Regions from separate parts of the Homo sapiens genome. Here region 1 is linked to region 2. The links come from fine-mapping of genetic effects on gene expression. Tissue or cell type: prefrontal cortex. Region 2 holds a variant in brackets; the other region holds the start of a gene. All regions are shown on one strand. Distances are from middle to middle.

Evidence for each region. PIP is the estimated chance that this variant, and not a neighbour inherited with it, causes the effect.
Region 1: it holds the start of GYG2, and the variant in region 2 is fine-mapped to the expression of GYG2 in prefrontal cortex (GTEx, PIP 0.94).

Annotation. Positions count from the first base shown.
Region 1 is chrX:2,825,042-2,833,221 of GRCh38, reverse strand. It overlaps GYG2 (glycogenin 2), which reads right to left and starts at 4,292. Exons shown (of 11, transcript NM_001079855.2): 1 at 4,247-4,292; 2 at 3,027-3,161. The coding sequence starts at 3,033.
Region 2 is chrX:2,890,554-2,898,861 of GRCh38, reverse strand. No RefSeq gene overlaps it. Among named protein-coding and RNA genes, the nearest start is that of ARSD-AS1, 10 kb to the left of the region's middle. RefSeq lists enhancers at 209-1,004, 1,005-1,800, 6,357-7,047. The variant A/T (reference allele first, on the strand shown) is at 4,462.

The sequences.
Region 1 (8,180 bases), 66 kb after region 2:
CCTTGTGGAGATACAGAGAAAGACAACATCTACAAGCCAAGGAGAGAGGCGTCAGGAGGAAACAGCCCTGCCCACACCCTGATCTCAGATTTCCAGCCTCCAAGACTGTGGGAGAGTAAATGTGTGTTGTTTAAGCCGCCCAGTCTGTGGGACTTTGTTATGGCAGCCCCAGCAGAAAAACACAGTAGTATTCAAATAAATGAGTTATCCTATTATGGGCTGACTTGTGCACCTCCAAAATTCATATATGAATATCATAACCTGCAGGACCTCAGAATGTGACTGTATTTGGAGATGGGGTCTTTAAAGAAGAGATTAAGATAAAATTAAGTCACTAGGGTGGGCTCTGATCCAATAGGATTGGTGTCCTTATAAGAAAGGAGATTAGGCCAAGCGTGGTGGCTCACGCCTGTAATCCCAACACTTTGGGAGGCCAAGGCAGGTGGATCACCTGAGGTCAGGAGTTCAAAACCAGCCTGACCAACATGGAGAAACCCCATCTGTACTAAAAATACAAAAGTGAGCCGGGCATGGGGGCGGGCACCTGTAATCCCAGCTACTCAGGAGGCTGAGGCAGGAGAATCGCTTGAACCCAAGAGGCGGAAGCTGCAGTGAGCCGATATTGCACCATCGCACTCCAGCCTGGGCGACAAGAGCAAAATTCCATCTCAAAAAAAAAGAGGCGATTAGGACACAGACACACACAAAGGGAAGACCCTGTGAGGACCAAGCCCAGGAGAGAGGCCTCAGGAGGAACCAGCCCTGCCCACACCCACCTTGATCTCAAACACAAAAGAGAATGCAGACAGGGCTGCATTTAGAGTGAGAGTTTTATGGAACTACTGGATACCCTGTTTCTCTCTTTGGTTTAGAGTGGAGGGAATATTGACCACAGTCACACAATGACAAGACAACACCAGTTGGCACACGAGCTCTCTCCAGCAACAAGGGATCCGAGACTCAGACTTTTGCTTTGGAACAAAAATGTGCACCTCCTGAAGGTTAGCCGCTTCCCATCCAGGACACTGTAAAACCCATCTAAAGTGCAAAGACAGACCAGCAGATTGAAATAGAACAGAAGATGAAACATTGATTGACAGGGCTTAGCTTCCACATCGCCTTGCCTTGAAGAAACAACTGGTGATCAAGTCCTGGTGCGGCGCCAGACGCCAGAGAACATCCACAATTATCCAATGCTACTGCATTCAAAGAGGGAGTTTCCACTCCAAGTGCCACTGCGGCGGACACTTTCAGCAACGGCATGGAGTGGAAAAACAGCAAGAAAACCTGTCACTGCACCACAGCCCACAAAAAGGAGACATTGTCACAAAATCAAGTCCAGTCTGGAGATTACAGTGGCTGAGAATTTTATGAATCTGTGACAACAGTTTCTTTCTACCCCTTGCCTGCCCCCCTGCACTCAAGGAATCTTCTGATCACCCCCCAAAATAACCTTAGCAGCTTCCTTCTCAGCCCTTTTCTACTCAAAGGTGGTTTTTGTTTTCTGCAAAGAGTTGAGTCTTCTCTTCTGGCACGAGGCTGACCAAGATGTATGCGAATGTCCGTCTTGAATGCTGCTATTATACAGACCCTAGCAGGCTTGGGGAAATGTGTGGCTTTCACTTTAGAGAGCTCCAAACGCGTCCCTAGAACAGAGAATCTTTTCTGCCATTCCTTGGAACAGACTCTTCCAGTACACCTCATGAAAACAGCCCTTAAGATCCCTGCCCCGACAATTTTCATCTCTAAGTCCAGAGTGGGAACAAACAGGAGAGAAGCAGCTCTGTGATTTACCAAATCTCTCCTCTGAATAAAAAAGTCATCTGTTCTGTTTGTGTGTTTTAAATTGCACTCATGGCCAGGCGTGGTGGCTCGTGCCTGTAATCCCAGCACTTTGAGAGGCCAAAGGAGGAGGACTGCTTGAGCCTAGAAGTTCAAGACCAGCCTGGGCAACATAGCAAGACCCTGTCTCTACAAAATTTAAAAAATATACATTTAAAAATAAATACATAAAATGCACTCATAGAATGATCCAGTGTGGTCTGGTACAAGAAGGAGGTGTCTTAATGATTTAATGATAGAAAATAGAACCAGCATCTTTCTTATGGGAAGAGGTTACACTCTGTTCACATATCTAGGCCTCTTAAGTCAACCAGTCTATCTGATGTCCACAAAACCCAAGGGCAGGGAGATGGGGCTCACCGGTCCTTGGCGGGGGCAGGCCTTTCCTGCCATTCTTGCCAGCCAGCCCTCTGCCTGCAGGAGGATTAACCTGGATTCTTATTTTGTTGTTGTTTTTTAGAGACAGGGTCTCACTCTGTCACCCAAGCTGGAGTGCAGTGGTGCACTCATAGCTCACTGCAGCCTGGAACTCCTGGGCTCAGGACCCTCCCACCTCAGCTTCCCTAGTAGCTGGGACTACAGGCAGGTGCCGCAATGCCCAGCTGATTTTTAAATTTTTTTCCTAGAGATGTGGTCTCCCTATGTTGCCCAGGATGGTCTCAAACTCCTGGCCTCAAGCAATCCTCCCGCCTCAGCTTCCCAAAGTGCTGGGATTACAGGCCTGAGCCACCAAGCCGGGCCATCCCTGTATCTGTACTGGAAACAGAAATTAAAACCGTGGTCTGAGTTCTAAGAACTCAAGGCAGCCTCTTCCCAGAGCTTTAGGGCCATTTCAGGAGAACAGACTTCTTCCCATCGGCCTTCCAGGCAGTGACAGTCTCAGGCAGTTCAATGCTATTCCCAAGAAACAAGCCCATTGAAAGTTTCAGGACTATATTTTACAAAAGGAAACTGGTGAAATCCCAAGGCCCCCTTCACTTGCTGTAAATCACCCCCTCCCAGCAGCTGAGGCTGGTATCTCCATTCCCTCCAGCCCCAGAGAGACCTGGGCGAGGCAGTAAGGGGGAGACTCGGGGTTTGGGGCAATCCTGCGGTCAAAGTGGGGTTCTCCCCAGTGCAGACCAATCTGTCACCCAAGCCAGTAGGAACAGGCAGGCTGAACTGAAGCAGCTTGAGCTACTCACCCGACATGGTCAGTGGCGCCGCGGGCAGTGGGCGCGGACCTGCAGACCTGCGCCCGGGAGCAGTGGGTGGACTTCCTCGCCACGAACCCGCAGAGCAGAGGCGCCGTCTCCGGGAATCCGCGTGGATTTCCAGGCCTGGGGGCGACAGCGTGGCAGTCTCGACACCCTCGGCTGCAGGCCCCGCCAGTGTCACCCCCGGCCTCCTACCCACTCCATGTCACCTGCGCCCCACGGGGCCCCTGCCTCCCCCGATGCCCCTGCGACCTCCACGCCCCGCACTTCCTCCTTGGCGCTCCAGGTCAGCCTCGTGCCCTCTGGCCAGGGGCCCCTTGACCCCCTGTCCTCCCCACAGTCACCTGCGACCCCGCTGCGTCTTAACACCCATGCGCCCAGCAACGACAACGCCCCCGGGACACCACCCGACCTCAGCGGTGTCAGCAGCTGCCCCGCCGCCCCGCGCACCTGCTTGGAGTTCTGGGCATCCTCTTCCTCCACCCCAGCTGGCGCCCCCCGGTCACCCCTCTCCACTCCCTGGACCACCCCTGCGCTCCCGGACGCCAGTATCTGCACCTCCTCCGAGCTTGGGCTGCCTCTGCCCGCGCCCCCCGGCCAGGTGCCCCCTCCCTCGTCACTCCAGTGCAGCCCCCCGGCCTACCCCTGCGCCTCTCGCCGCCCCTCCTCCCCGACCCGGCCTGCCGCCCATCCTCCCCAAGCGCCCCCGAGCCCCCTCCACGCTCTGCACCTCTCCCTTGCCCCGCGCTCCCGCAGCCTCTGCCTTGGGCCCGCGCCCCCCTCCCCAAGCCTCCCAGCCCTACGCCCGCGCCCCGTCTGTCCTCCGTACTCCGGCAGCCTCCGTCTCCCCGCGCCCCGCCGCGCCTGGACGGCCTGTATTCCCCAGCACTCGGTGCCCTGGCTCGGCGCACTCACCCCTAAGCGCTCCTGGCCTACTCCCGCGCCCCGCACCCCTCCCCTCCTTCGCGCTTGGGCAACCTCTGACCTCCAGCCCCCTGCGCCCCTCGCCCCTCCTTTGCACTCCAGTCCGGCGCCCCTCCCCCAGCCCCCAGCCTCGGCCTCTGGGTTGCGCCCCCGCCCCGCTGTACGCCACCCACCCTCGAGACCTCCTAGGCGTTCGGGCAGCCTCTGCGCCCCCCGGCCCCCCGCCGCGCCCAGGCCTCCTCCACTGCCCACGGTCCCCTGCAGCCCCCTACAGCCCCCCGCACCTCTTCCGCGCTCTGGCTGCCTCGGCCCAGAGCCGGCGCTGGAGGCCCCGAGGGCAGCGATTGGCCTCTGTCCGGAAGCCCGGCCCCGCCTCCGCCAGCCCCCGCGGGCGCGGGTCCTCTCCTCCTCCCTGCAGCCCCTGCCCGCAAGCCCGCGCGCCGCCTGGTGCCCAGCCCCGGCTGCCGGGAAGAGAGACCCGGGAACCGCCGGGGGCTGCGATCCACGCCCGCGCCCCGCCCCTCGCCCGCCGCGGCCCCTTCGGCAGTCGGCGGTTTCTAGGTTTGGACATTTAACCTTTAATCAGCCAGCCCCAAAGTAAACGTTTGCGATGACTTAAGGCCCTGGGCCCAAGGCCAGCGCGCAGCAAGAGTGGAGGCCGCTCTGGAAGCCTCCCAGAGGGAGAAGGCAGGGCTTATACGCGATCTTGTCGAATGCATGAAAAATGCACGTGCGCGTACTTACACGCATAAACTGAATGAATGAATGAGTGCACGAAAGAAAGAATAAATGAGGGTTTCAGGCTTCAGCTGTTGAATGCATAGCGAGCGAGTGGCTGTACGCACGCGGTGAGTGCATGTATGCGTGAGTGCATGTATGCGTGAATGCATGTGAGGCGTGAATGAACAAACAACTACTCATGAATGAGCAGGCCAGGAAATGAATGAACCATTGAATCAATGTTTGCGCCAAGGAGGGAATGAATGCATTCACACATGAATGCATGAGTTGAAGGCATGAACGAGCCAATGCATGTATGAATGAATTTAGAGATAGATGCGTGAATGGAGGTGTGACTGTGTGGAAAATATAGGTGAATGCATGCATGCATGCGTGAAGGCATGAATCTATGAATGAGTGAATGAATGAGTTGAATGCATGAATGATTGAGTGAACAAGTGAATTCATGCATGCATAGTGCATGAATGGGTGAAAGGTGAATTCATGCATACATGAGTGAGTGCATGAATAAGTGAACAAGTGAACTTATGCATGCATGAGTGACTGCATGAGTGAATAAACAAGCGAATTCATGCCTGCATGAGTGAGTGCATGAATGAGTGAACAAGCGAATTCATACGTGATTGAGTGCATGAATGACTTAAGAAGTGAATTCATGCATGTATAAGTGCATGTATGAGTGAGTAAACAAGTGAATTCATGCATGCATGAGTGCACGAATGAGTGAACAAGTGAGTTCATGCCTGCATGAGTGTATGAATGAGTAAATAAGCGAATTCGTACAAGCATGAGTGAGTGCATGAATGAGTGAGTGAACAAGTGAGTTCATGCCTGCATGAGTGAGTGAATTCATGCATGCAGGATTGATTGAGCACGTGAAGGCATGCATTTATACAGGAATGGATGTGTGTGTGAGTGAATGAAGAGAATACATGACAAGTGAATACGTGGCCGAATGACTGAGTGAATAAATATGTATGAGTACAGGAATGAGCTGAACAAACTAGCATGTGTGTTAATGCACACACACGAGTGAATGAGTGAAGACTGCATACACTTCAGGAATTAATGTATTATGTATGAGTGAATGAATGAATTGAATGCATGGACAAGTTAATGGATGCATGAATGAATAAGTGAAAGTGTGAATGCATGCATGCATGCATGAGTGAATTAAGTGAATGAATCAATGAATGTGTGAATGCAAGCATGTATGAGTTCATGAGTTGAATGAGTGATGACTGTGAGTGCATGCATGTATGAGTTGAATGAGTGATGACTGTGTGAGTGCATGCATGTATGAGTTGAATGAGTGATGACTGTGTGAGGGCATGCATGTATGAGTTGAATGAGTGATGACTGTGTGAGGGCATGCATGTATGAGTTGAATGAGTGATGACTGTGTGAGGGCATGCATGTATGAGTTGAATGAGTGATGATGGTGTGAGTGCATGCATGTATGAGTGCATGAGTCGAATGAGTGAACTTACTTGGAGAAGAGCCTTCACGTGTCCATCCGAAAGAGACAGCAAAGGAACCCAGATTCTTGCCGAAACTGTCAATGGCAATCAACGCAAGCTACAGTCAGGCCTTCCTGATCTAGATGAATACCTAGGATGATCGATGGTCTGTGGATACCAGGCACTGTGCTGAGGGCTGTTCCTGCATCAGCTCAGCCTTGGGGACAGGTATCGGTGGTGTTTTTAGCTCTACTTCATAGATGGGGCCAGAGCTGTACATAAACAGTGGAGGCTATCTCTGACCTCCAGCAGGCTACAGGCAAGAATTTAACTCGTGACTACTGGGGCTTTGTAAGATATCTGCAGGGCATATTAAACATCAAGAAGCCATCTTTATTTATTTTTATATGTTATTACAACATGTTTTTTTTCTGCATTCGTTTGTTTTAAACAGGTTGACATATCCAATTTTACTGATTTATTTTATTTTATTTGTGTAAATTTATGGGGTAAAGTGCAATTTTGTTACATAGATATACTGAGTTGTGGTGAAGTCTGGGTTTCCAGGGTAAGCATCACCTGAATAGTGTACATGGTACCTATTAAGTAATTTCTCATTCTCCACCATCCTCCCACTCTCTCACCCTTTTGTATCTCCAGTGTCTATTAATCCACTCTCTATGTCCATGTGGACATATTATTTAGCTCCCACTTATGAGTGAGAACACGTGGTAATTGACGTTCTTTTTCTCAGTTATTTGACTTAAGATAATGGCCTCCAGTTTCATCCATGTTGCTGCAAAAGATAGAATTTCATTCTTTTGCATGGCTGAATATGATTCCATTGTACACATAAATCACATTTTCTGTATCCAATCACCTGTCGATGAGCACCTGGGTTGACTCCGTATCTTTGCTATTGTGAATGGTGCTGTAATAAACATATGAGTGCAGGTGTGTTTTTGATATAATGACTTGTTTTCCTTTGGGTGAATACCTTGTAGTGGAATTGTTAGATCAACTGGTAGATAAAATTTTAGTTCTTTGAGAAATCTCTGTATCATTTTCCATAGGGGGTCCACTTTCAAATCCGTCCAGCCCCTGAGGCATTGGGGAAATCCTTAGGAGCCAAGAAGTGCCCCGGCGGAGCCCCCTTTGCCAGTACGACCTCAGTTTTCTATCCTCTGGATGCCAGCCCCAAAGAAGAGAAATGCCAGGATGAAGCTGGCCCCTCCAAGGAAGTCTCAGTTCTTGTGCAAGGAAGGGGAGACTCTCCCAGCTTCTATGCTTTCTCCTTGTTGGCTCCAATAGTCGCCAGATGTCTGCACAGCCTTGTGCTGCCAACTCGTTCCATGGGGCCTGTGTTGGCTTCTCATTGCTCCAGCAGGGAAACCGTGGAGTGCTGTGCTCTTGCTCTGGGTAAGGGAGGATCCTCCTACGGGAAAGGGTCTTATGAGTGTTCTAACAAGAGGGGCATTTACAAAAGACTCAGACAGCTCCTGCCTCCTGGACTGTTCAGAATGATGTGACTGTCAACCTGATCCCTTTCCCAAGGTTAGATGGAAGTTACTACTGGAGTTTTTCACCAAGGCGTTTGTGGCATTCAGGGCTGGATTCTCTGAGGTGGGCCCATCCTGTGCACTGTAGGGTGTTGAGCAGTATCCCTGGGCTCCATCTGCCGGGTGCCATTGGCACACTTTCCAGTAGTGACAATTAAAACTGACCTCAAACATTGCACAGTGTCCCCTGGTAGGAGCAGGGGCAGAATCATTCTTAGGCTGTAAGCCACTGTTTAGATAGATGATAAATAAATAGATAGATAATGGATAGATAAATAGATCAGTAGATGCATGATAGATGATACATAGGTAGATGATAGATGAGATAGGATGAATGGACAGATAGATGATAGATAGGATAGAGAGATAGATAGGTGATAAATAGATGATACATAGATATAGAGATACATAGATACATACATATATGGAGATAGATGATAAATAGATAAGAGATTGAT
Region 2 (8,308 bases):
TCACTTTGAGCTGACCTGGTGAGTTAATCTGACCTTCTCCCTGTAACCCGTTGGAGAAATAAATCCCCTTCTCCCCAGTCTGTCTGCACCTCATTGTTGAGCCCCAAGAACAAGCAGCCAGCACTCGTTCATTCGTCCGGGAGCAAAACCTTTGTTAAAGAAAAAACTATTCAGTGATACTAGGTTGGTAATTGCAGTTATTACTTTTGCACGAACCTCGTACTTGGGAAAGCATCACCAAAAAGATAACGAAGACATTATCCAGGCTTATCGTGTGAAGTACAGGGACCACTGCAATGGCGGTTCACAGTGCAGGAGAGGCTGGGCTCAGCTTCCAATATGAACACAGCAAGGGCAAGTGGGAATGTACAGCCACGGGGGCAGGCAGCGGGTGTACAGATGGCAAAGCACTAAAAGGAAACATCAGAGGTGAAGCGGGTCCTGGCTAAACCAACCTGGCTTGTTAAAGCCAGCCAAGGGGGTTAAACATCAACCAGGGGTGGTGGACGACGAGGAACATGATATCAAGAATGGTGGCTTCTCGCCAAACTGACTTAGCCGGTACTTTGCTGAAATCTAATTCTATAAGGAAACGCACCACCGGGCCTGGGAGGGGCTTCAGGAGCCTGGCTACGGTTTGGCCAGGCAGAGACTTTTTGTCACATCTCCTTCTCACCTAAAGGTGTCCGCGGTGAATTCTTGCATCATTTCCTTTTCATGCATTTCCCCAGTCATGTGTTGCAAACCTAACCCTGAAAATACCAAGTATGCAGCCGGTCTGTGAGCTGAGGGAATATGCAGAGACCTGCAGAGAAGCAGCATTGTCTGCAGATTTAAAGAGGAAGGAAGCAGGACTCGGATAAGGAGGGGGCCAGCCAGAGGGGTGGAGGAGAGCTGACTTACAGCTGCCCTGCAGAGGGCCTACCTTTATCTTGGGGGATGCCTTCAAGTCCGGTCTTTGACTCTTGTTCAAGATAAGGGCTGGGATTTATGACGCGCTAGTTACAGTTCAAACCTCCCCCCTGACCCCAGAGTCTGTTTCTTTACTTAAGGTTTGCACATTTGCAAGTGGCCTAACCAGTTAGACAGCCTGGATGCACTGAATGAGCGGAGTGGCAACCGCCTCCCCTACCTCCTCAAATGTCTGGTTTGAGGCCCCCTGAAACCAAGATTCCTCTCACTGTCCTTCGTGTGCCAACCATGAGACAGAACAAATGAGACCCTGGGAAGCTCCTGCCCGGGATGTCTCCGAAGCTCCAACGCTGGCTGCATGCTCTTTCTCTCCTCGCACTCTCTCACAATCTTACACGAAATGAGCATGCTGTGTGGGGGCTGGGAAGTCCACTCAAATATCCAAACTAGAAACTGGCCGAGTGCAGTGGCTCATGCTTATCATCCCAGCACTTTGGGACACCGAGGTGGAAGGATCACTCAAGCCCAGGAGTGCGAGACGAGCCTGGCCAACACAGTGGGACCCCGTCTGTACAAAAAATATAAAATCAGGCAAGCGTGGTGGTGCACACCTGTGGTCTCAGCTACTTGGAAGGCTGAGGTGGGAGGATCTCTAGAGCCTGGGACGTCAAGGCTGCAGTGAGCTGTGATTGCACCACTGTACTCCAGCCTGGGTGACAGTCTCAAAAAAAAAAAAAAAAAAGAAAAGAAAAGAAAAACTTTGCGGGAAATTTTTCATATATTGACCTATTAGAAATCCAACTTCATGTTCCGTGAATGGAAAACCCTGCACCAAAATTAACTCAAAGTGGATCAGAGACCCAAATGTAAGTGCGATCTCTATAACATGTGCAGAAGAAAACAGAGGAGAAAGTCTTTTTCGTTTTGGGTTAGGAAAATAAGACACCAAAAGCGCGACCCATTAAAAAAATAAATAAATAAATAAATAAACTTGATTGAGTTTACCAAATTTCGGCTGGGTGTGGGGTGACTCATGCCTGTAATCCCAGCACTTTGGCAGGCTGAGGCAGGCAGATCACGAGGTCAAGAGATAGAGACCAGCCTGGCCAACATGGTGAAACCCCGTCTCTACTAAAAATACAAAAATTAGCTGAGCGTGGTGGCACGTGCTTGTGCTACTCGGGAGGCTGAGGCAGGAGAATCGCTTGAACCCGGGAGGGGGAGGTTGCAGGGAGCCAAGATCGGACCACGGCACTCCAGCCTGGCGACAGAGCAAGGCTCCATCTCAAACAAACAAAACAAAACAAAACAAAAATTTCTTTTTTTTTTTTTTTTTGAGATGGAGTTTTGTTCACTCTTGTCGCCCAGGCTGGAGTACAGTGGCATGATCTCGGCTCCCTGCAACTTCCACCTCGTGGGTTCAAGCAATTCTCCTGCCTCAGCCTCCTGAGTAGCTGGGGTTACAGGCATGAGCCACCACACCCAGCTAATTTTTGTATTTTTAGTAGAGACGGGGTTTCACCATGTTGGCCAGGCTGGTCTCGAACTCCTGACCTCAGGTGATCAACCTGCCTCAGTCCCCAAAAGTGCTGGGATTACAGGCGTGAGCCACCATGTCTGGCCTAAATTTCTCTTTTCAAAGGGGAAATTTGTACTTTATTTTTAGCTGTCGAGGAGCAAGTAAAGAGCTCCTCTTGTATTAGCTGGTTCTCAGTGTTTCAGCTCAAAGTAATGGGTATGTTGGGCTGGTATATTCTGGTTGCCAGCAGTCATGTTTGGGGACGTGTATCCTGAGGTCTGACACTATAAAGCCTCCTCTACTTGTCTTTCGGTCCCTGCCAAAATGCAAAGGGTGATGTCTGACTCCCTTACTAGGGCTAGCTCTGAATAAGTGGCCTCTGCTCATTTTCATTTGGGACGAAAACATTTGGGATGGGGGACGTCTCATTTATTTCCACTTGTTCTATTTATTTATTTATTTTGAGACAGAGTCTCGCTCTGTTGCCCAGGCTGGAGTGGAGTGGGGTGATCTCAGCTCACTGCAACCTCCACCTCCCGGGTTCAAGCAATTCTCCTGCCTCACTCAGCCTCCCGAGCAGCTGGGATTACAGGCATGCGCCACCATGCCTGGCCAATATTCTGTGTGTATTTTTGGTAGAGACGGGGTTTCACCATGTTGGCCAGGCTGGTCTCAAACTCCTGACCTCAGGTGATTTGCCCACCTCAGCCCTGCAAAGTGCTGGGATTACAGGCATGAGCCACACACTTGGCTTTTTTTTTTTTTTTTTTTTTTTTTTTTTTTTTTTTTTTTTTTTGACACAGGGTCTGGCTCTGTCACCCAGGCTGGAGTACAGTGGCACAATCTTGCTCACTGCAACCTCTGCCTCCCAAGCTCTAGTGATACTCCCACCTCAGCCTCCCAAATAGCTGGGACCACAGGCGTGCACCACCACGCCCATCTAATTTTTGTATATTTTATACAGAGGAGGTTTTGTCGTGTTGCCCATGCTAGTCTCGAGCTCCTGGACTTAAGCAATCTGCCCACCTCGGCCTCTCAAATTGCTGGGATTACAGGCATGAGCCACTGTGCCTGGCCAATTTTCACCTGTTCTAAAGCAGCTGCTTAGAGGGCATGAGCTTGCAAAGACACAGCCCCTGAGCAGACTTCTCTATATGCACATAAGAAACAGCTAATGCACTGCCATCCCAATCCACAGCCAGACCTCGTATAATGGATAATCACCCTTCTCCCTGTGCCAGGATGTGGCCTCAGGGTAAAAATAATGAGTACAGCTGTGACATTTATTGAGTCCTTGACATGAGCCAGGCCTTGCTCTCCGTGCTTTGCAGATCACAGCTTCTACAATCTTCACAGCAATCGTGGCTCTTTCGCAACTGCAACTCCGTATCTTGGGGCATTTTGCCAATTTAGCCATTAGTCTATGAACAAAGCCACATTCTGATCAGGCTGAAGAATCAGGAAGGGAGAATGTGGCGGTGGGCTTTGTTCTGTATGTCACACAGCAATCTCGCTCTTTTACGGACATCACCTCACGTGGCTATGGCTCTTCTACTTCCCTACAGGGGACAAGGTGGGATAGTAGATCAAGGTGTTCTGCTCTCCCCGATCCAAGCCAAGGAGGAGCCAGGGTCTCAGGCTTGGATTCTCCCACGTTCACCCTGAGCATCTCACAACAGTAATCCCATAAAGCCACCGCTGCATGCTGTCCACAGGCTGTTCTTGATTTCGCCATTTTATAACACTAGCTCTTCTACGTTCCTTACTCTTCGAATGACCCCACACACTCACCATGCCTGGATGGTGTTGTTTAAGCAATCCAGGTTCATTTATGTTGCTTGTGAGGGGTTTCAGGACGTGCCGCCCCAAAACATGGCCCCTTGGCATTGGAGAAAACAGCAGAAGCGGGATGGTCTCTCTGACCTTCCTCTCATCTTTCTCTCCTGAAGCAGGTCAAACCACCCTCATTTGAAAGGTGCCTTAATACCCAGAGGAAAGAAACATCCTTAATTTCTTTTTAAAAAATTTTT[A/T]AATTGTTTTGTTTCCATAGGTTTTTGGGAAACAGGTGGTATTTGGTTACATGAGTCAGTTCTTTAGTGACAATTTGTGAGATTTTGGTGCACCCATCACCTGAACAGTATACACTGAACCCAATGTGTGTGGTCTTCTATCCCTCACCCCCTTCCAGCTCTTCTCCACAAGACCCCAAAGTCCATTGTGTCATTCTTACACCTTTGCATCCTCATAGCTTAGCTCTCACTTATGAGTGAGAACACACAATGTTTGGTTTTCCATTCCTGAGTTACTTCACTTAGAATAATGGTCTCCAATTCCATCCAGGTTGCTGTGAATGCCATTCATTCATTCCTTTTTATGGCTGAGTAGTATTCTATCATCTATATATATATACACACACACACACACACACACACACATATACACATATATGTGTGTGTGTATATATATATATATATATATATATAGATGATAGAATACTACTCAGCCATAAAAAGGAATGAATATATGTGTGTGTGTGTATATATATACATATATATGGGTGTGTGTGTATATATATATACATATATGTGTGTATATATATATATACACATATATGTGTGTGTGTGTATATATATATGTATCACAGTTTTTTTAATCCACTCATTGATTGATGGGCATTTGGGCTGGATCCACATTTTTGCAATTGTGAATTGTGCTGCTATAAACATGCATGTGCAAGTATCTTATCTTTTTCAAATAATAACTTCTTTTCCTCGGAGTAGGTACCCAGTAATGGGATTGCTGGATCAAATGGTAGGGAACATCCTTATTTCTGAAGATACAGGGATGCAGAAGAATCTGAACTATTAAATCAAACTAAAATCTGGCCTGAGAATGTCTCTGTACTCTCATACTTGAGTCCTTGTGGGTGAACCGTAACCTAACTTGGCAGGTAGGCGGGCGGACTGAAAAGCTAAGGTATTAGTCTGTTCCTGCGCTGCTGTAAAGAACTACCTGAGCCTGGATAATTTAGAAAGAAAGGAGGTTCAATTGGCTCATGGTTCCGCGGGCTGTATAGAGATCATGGCTGGGGAGGCCTCAGGAAACTTACAGTCATGGCAGAAGGCAAAGGGGAAGTAAGCGTGTCTTACCATGCCTGGAGCAGGACCGAGACAGAGTGGGGAGGTGTCACACACTTTTAAACAACCCGATCTCGTGAGAACTCTAAACCATTAGAAACCGCTGCCCCCATGATCCGGTCATCTCCCACCAGGCCCCACCTTCAACACTGGAGATTTGTGTGAGAACACACATCCAAACCATATCACCTAACTTAAGAGTATGCTTCTGTAACAAGCGACATCTCCACCAATCCCAGCAGCCATACTTCAACCACTCACAGGGAGCCAACTGTTCTAACCATGTTCAAATAAGGCAAACGCTGAGCTGTAACCAGTGGAATGTTTCTGTGTGTCTCTTTCATTTTCATTTTCTTTCTTTCTTTCTTTTTGATTAAACCTCTTTCTCTTCTGCAGCCCTGAGAGTTGGGGTACAGACATGCTGCATGCAACGAACCTATTATGGTTACAGTTTAGCCTGGACCAGGCAACAGAAGTGGGTCCTCAGAAGACACTGAATCTGCCATTCCTTGACCTTGGACTTCAGCCTCCAGAACTGTGAGCCACAAATGCTGGTTGGGGTAAGCCGTGTAGTCTATGGTGTTTTCTTATGGCAGCTTAAATTGACTAAGACAGCTGGGGAGCAATTTGGCAGGTAGTCTCTGAGGAATGGCTATTACCCGTGATGTCCCATCAACATCTTTGCCTGAATTGGTCCAGGTTTACGTGATTTCCATCCATCACAATGGCTCACCTTTTTAATTTTATTTTATTCATTATTTTATTTTTAATTTAATTTAATTTTATATTTTGAGGCGGAGTCTTGCTCTGTCTGTCACCTAAGCTGGAGTGCAGTGGCACAATCTCAGTTCACTGCAACCTCCGCCTCCTGGATTCAAGCGATTCTCCTGCCTCAGCCTCCCAATTAGCTGGGATTACAGGTGTGTGCTACCATGCCTGTTTTTGTATTTTTTGTAGAGATGTGGTTTCACTATATGTTGGCCAGGCTGGTCTTGAACTCCTGACCTCAGGTGATCCAGCTGCCTTGGCCTCCCAAAGTGCTGGGATTACAGGTGTGAGCCACCTGCTGTGCCTGGCCTGGGGTCCCTTTTATAAGGACACTTATCCCATTGATGAGTCTAGACCCCTAATTGTTTCCTAAAAGCACCATCTCCTAATACTATTGTCTTGGGGATTAAGTTTCAACACATGAATGTTCAAGGCACACAATGTTCAAGGCAAGCATTGAGACCATAGCAACAGCAAAATCCACAACACTGCCAAAGAATGCCCAAACAGCTGCCATTGTCTTCTACAAGACTCTACGCAACCTCCTAAAAGGCAGAATGCCTATACTGGCCTCTGCCAGCCATCAACAAGATTCCCGCTTTCCAGGCTCTCTGCCGACTCTATCCTATGAATTCTGGCTGGCCTTTGACCCTTCACTTCCCCAATGGACTCCCCTCTGAGAGAAGAAATCCATTTGAATGCAAGATCACTGACCAGTGTACAAAATGACAAATAAGATATCTCAGTGTTCTTGGACAGAGGCCAAGTCACCAAGTCACATGACCCGAACTGGGGTAGAAGACAGTAATGAAGGAAGGAAAGAGAGGTTCAGAATAGCCCATGAGCTGGATGAGCCCTCCTGAAGCTATTTCAATCTTGCTGTCAGAGGCTTTCGAATGAGAGCCACTCCATCTTGAATAGGGCCTGGGTAAAATGAGGCTGAGACCTGCTGAGCTGCATTCCCAGGAGGTGTGGCATTCTAAGTCACAGGATGAGATAGGAGGTCAGCTCAAGATACAGGACATAAAGACCTTACTGATAAAACAGCTTGCATGAAAGAACCTGGCCAGAACCCACCAAAACCAAGAGGTGACAAATGTGACCTCTGGCTGTCCTCACAGCTCATTATATGCTAATTATAAAGCACAGAATACTAAGAGACACTCCCACCAGCGCCATGACAGTTTACAAATGTCATGGGAATGTCAGGAGATTACCCTATATGGTCTAAAAGGGGAGGAACCCTCAGTTCTGGGAATTGCGCACCCCTTTCCCAGAAAACTCAAGAATAATCCAACCCCTGTTTAGCATCTAATCAAGAAATAACCATTAAAAAAGGCAACCAACAGCCCATGCTGCTGCTCTGTCTATGGAGTGGCCATGCTTTTATTCCTCTACTTTCTTGATAAACTTGCTTTCACTTTACTCTATGGATTCGCCCCGAATTCTTTCTTGCCGCAAGATCCAAGTGTAATGCCCAACCTGGTTTTTACTAACCTGTTTTTAGACTCTCCCTTTTCCTCTACTCACCTAGCCTTCTTTCCACCTGAATGGACTCTCCCTTAGCTAAGAGAGCCAGCCAGACTCCACCTTGGCTCTTTCACTGGCAGCCCCTTCCTCAAGGACTGAACTCGTGCAGGCTGACTCCCAGCACATCCAAGAATGCAGTTAACTGATAAGATACTGTGGCGAGCTACATCCGCAGTTCCCGGGAATTCGTCTGATTAGTAACGCCCAAAGCCTCGCGTCTATAATAGTCTTAAAGCCCCTGCACCTGGAACTGTTTACTTTCCTGCAACCATTTATCCTTTTAACTTTTTGCCTACTTTACTTCTGTAAAATGGTTTTCACTAGACCCCCCGCCCTCCCCTTCCTAAACCAAGATCTAAAAGTTAATCAAGCCCCTTCCTCGGGGCCGAGAGAATTTTGAGCGTTAGCCGTCTCTCGGTCGCCGGCTAATAAAGGACTCTTA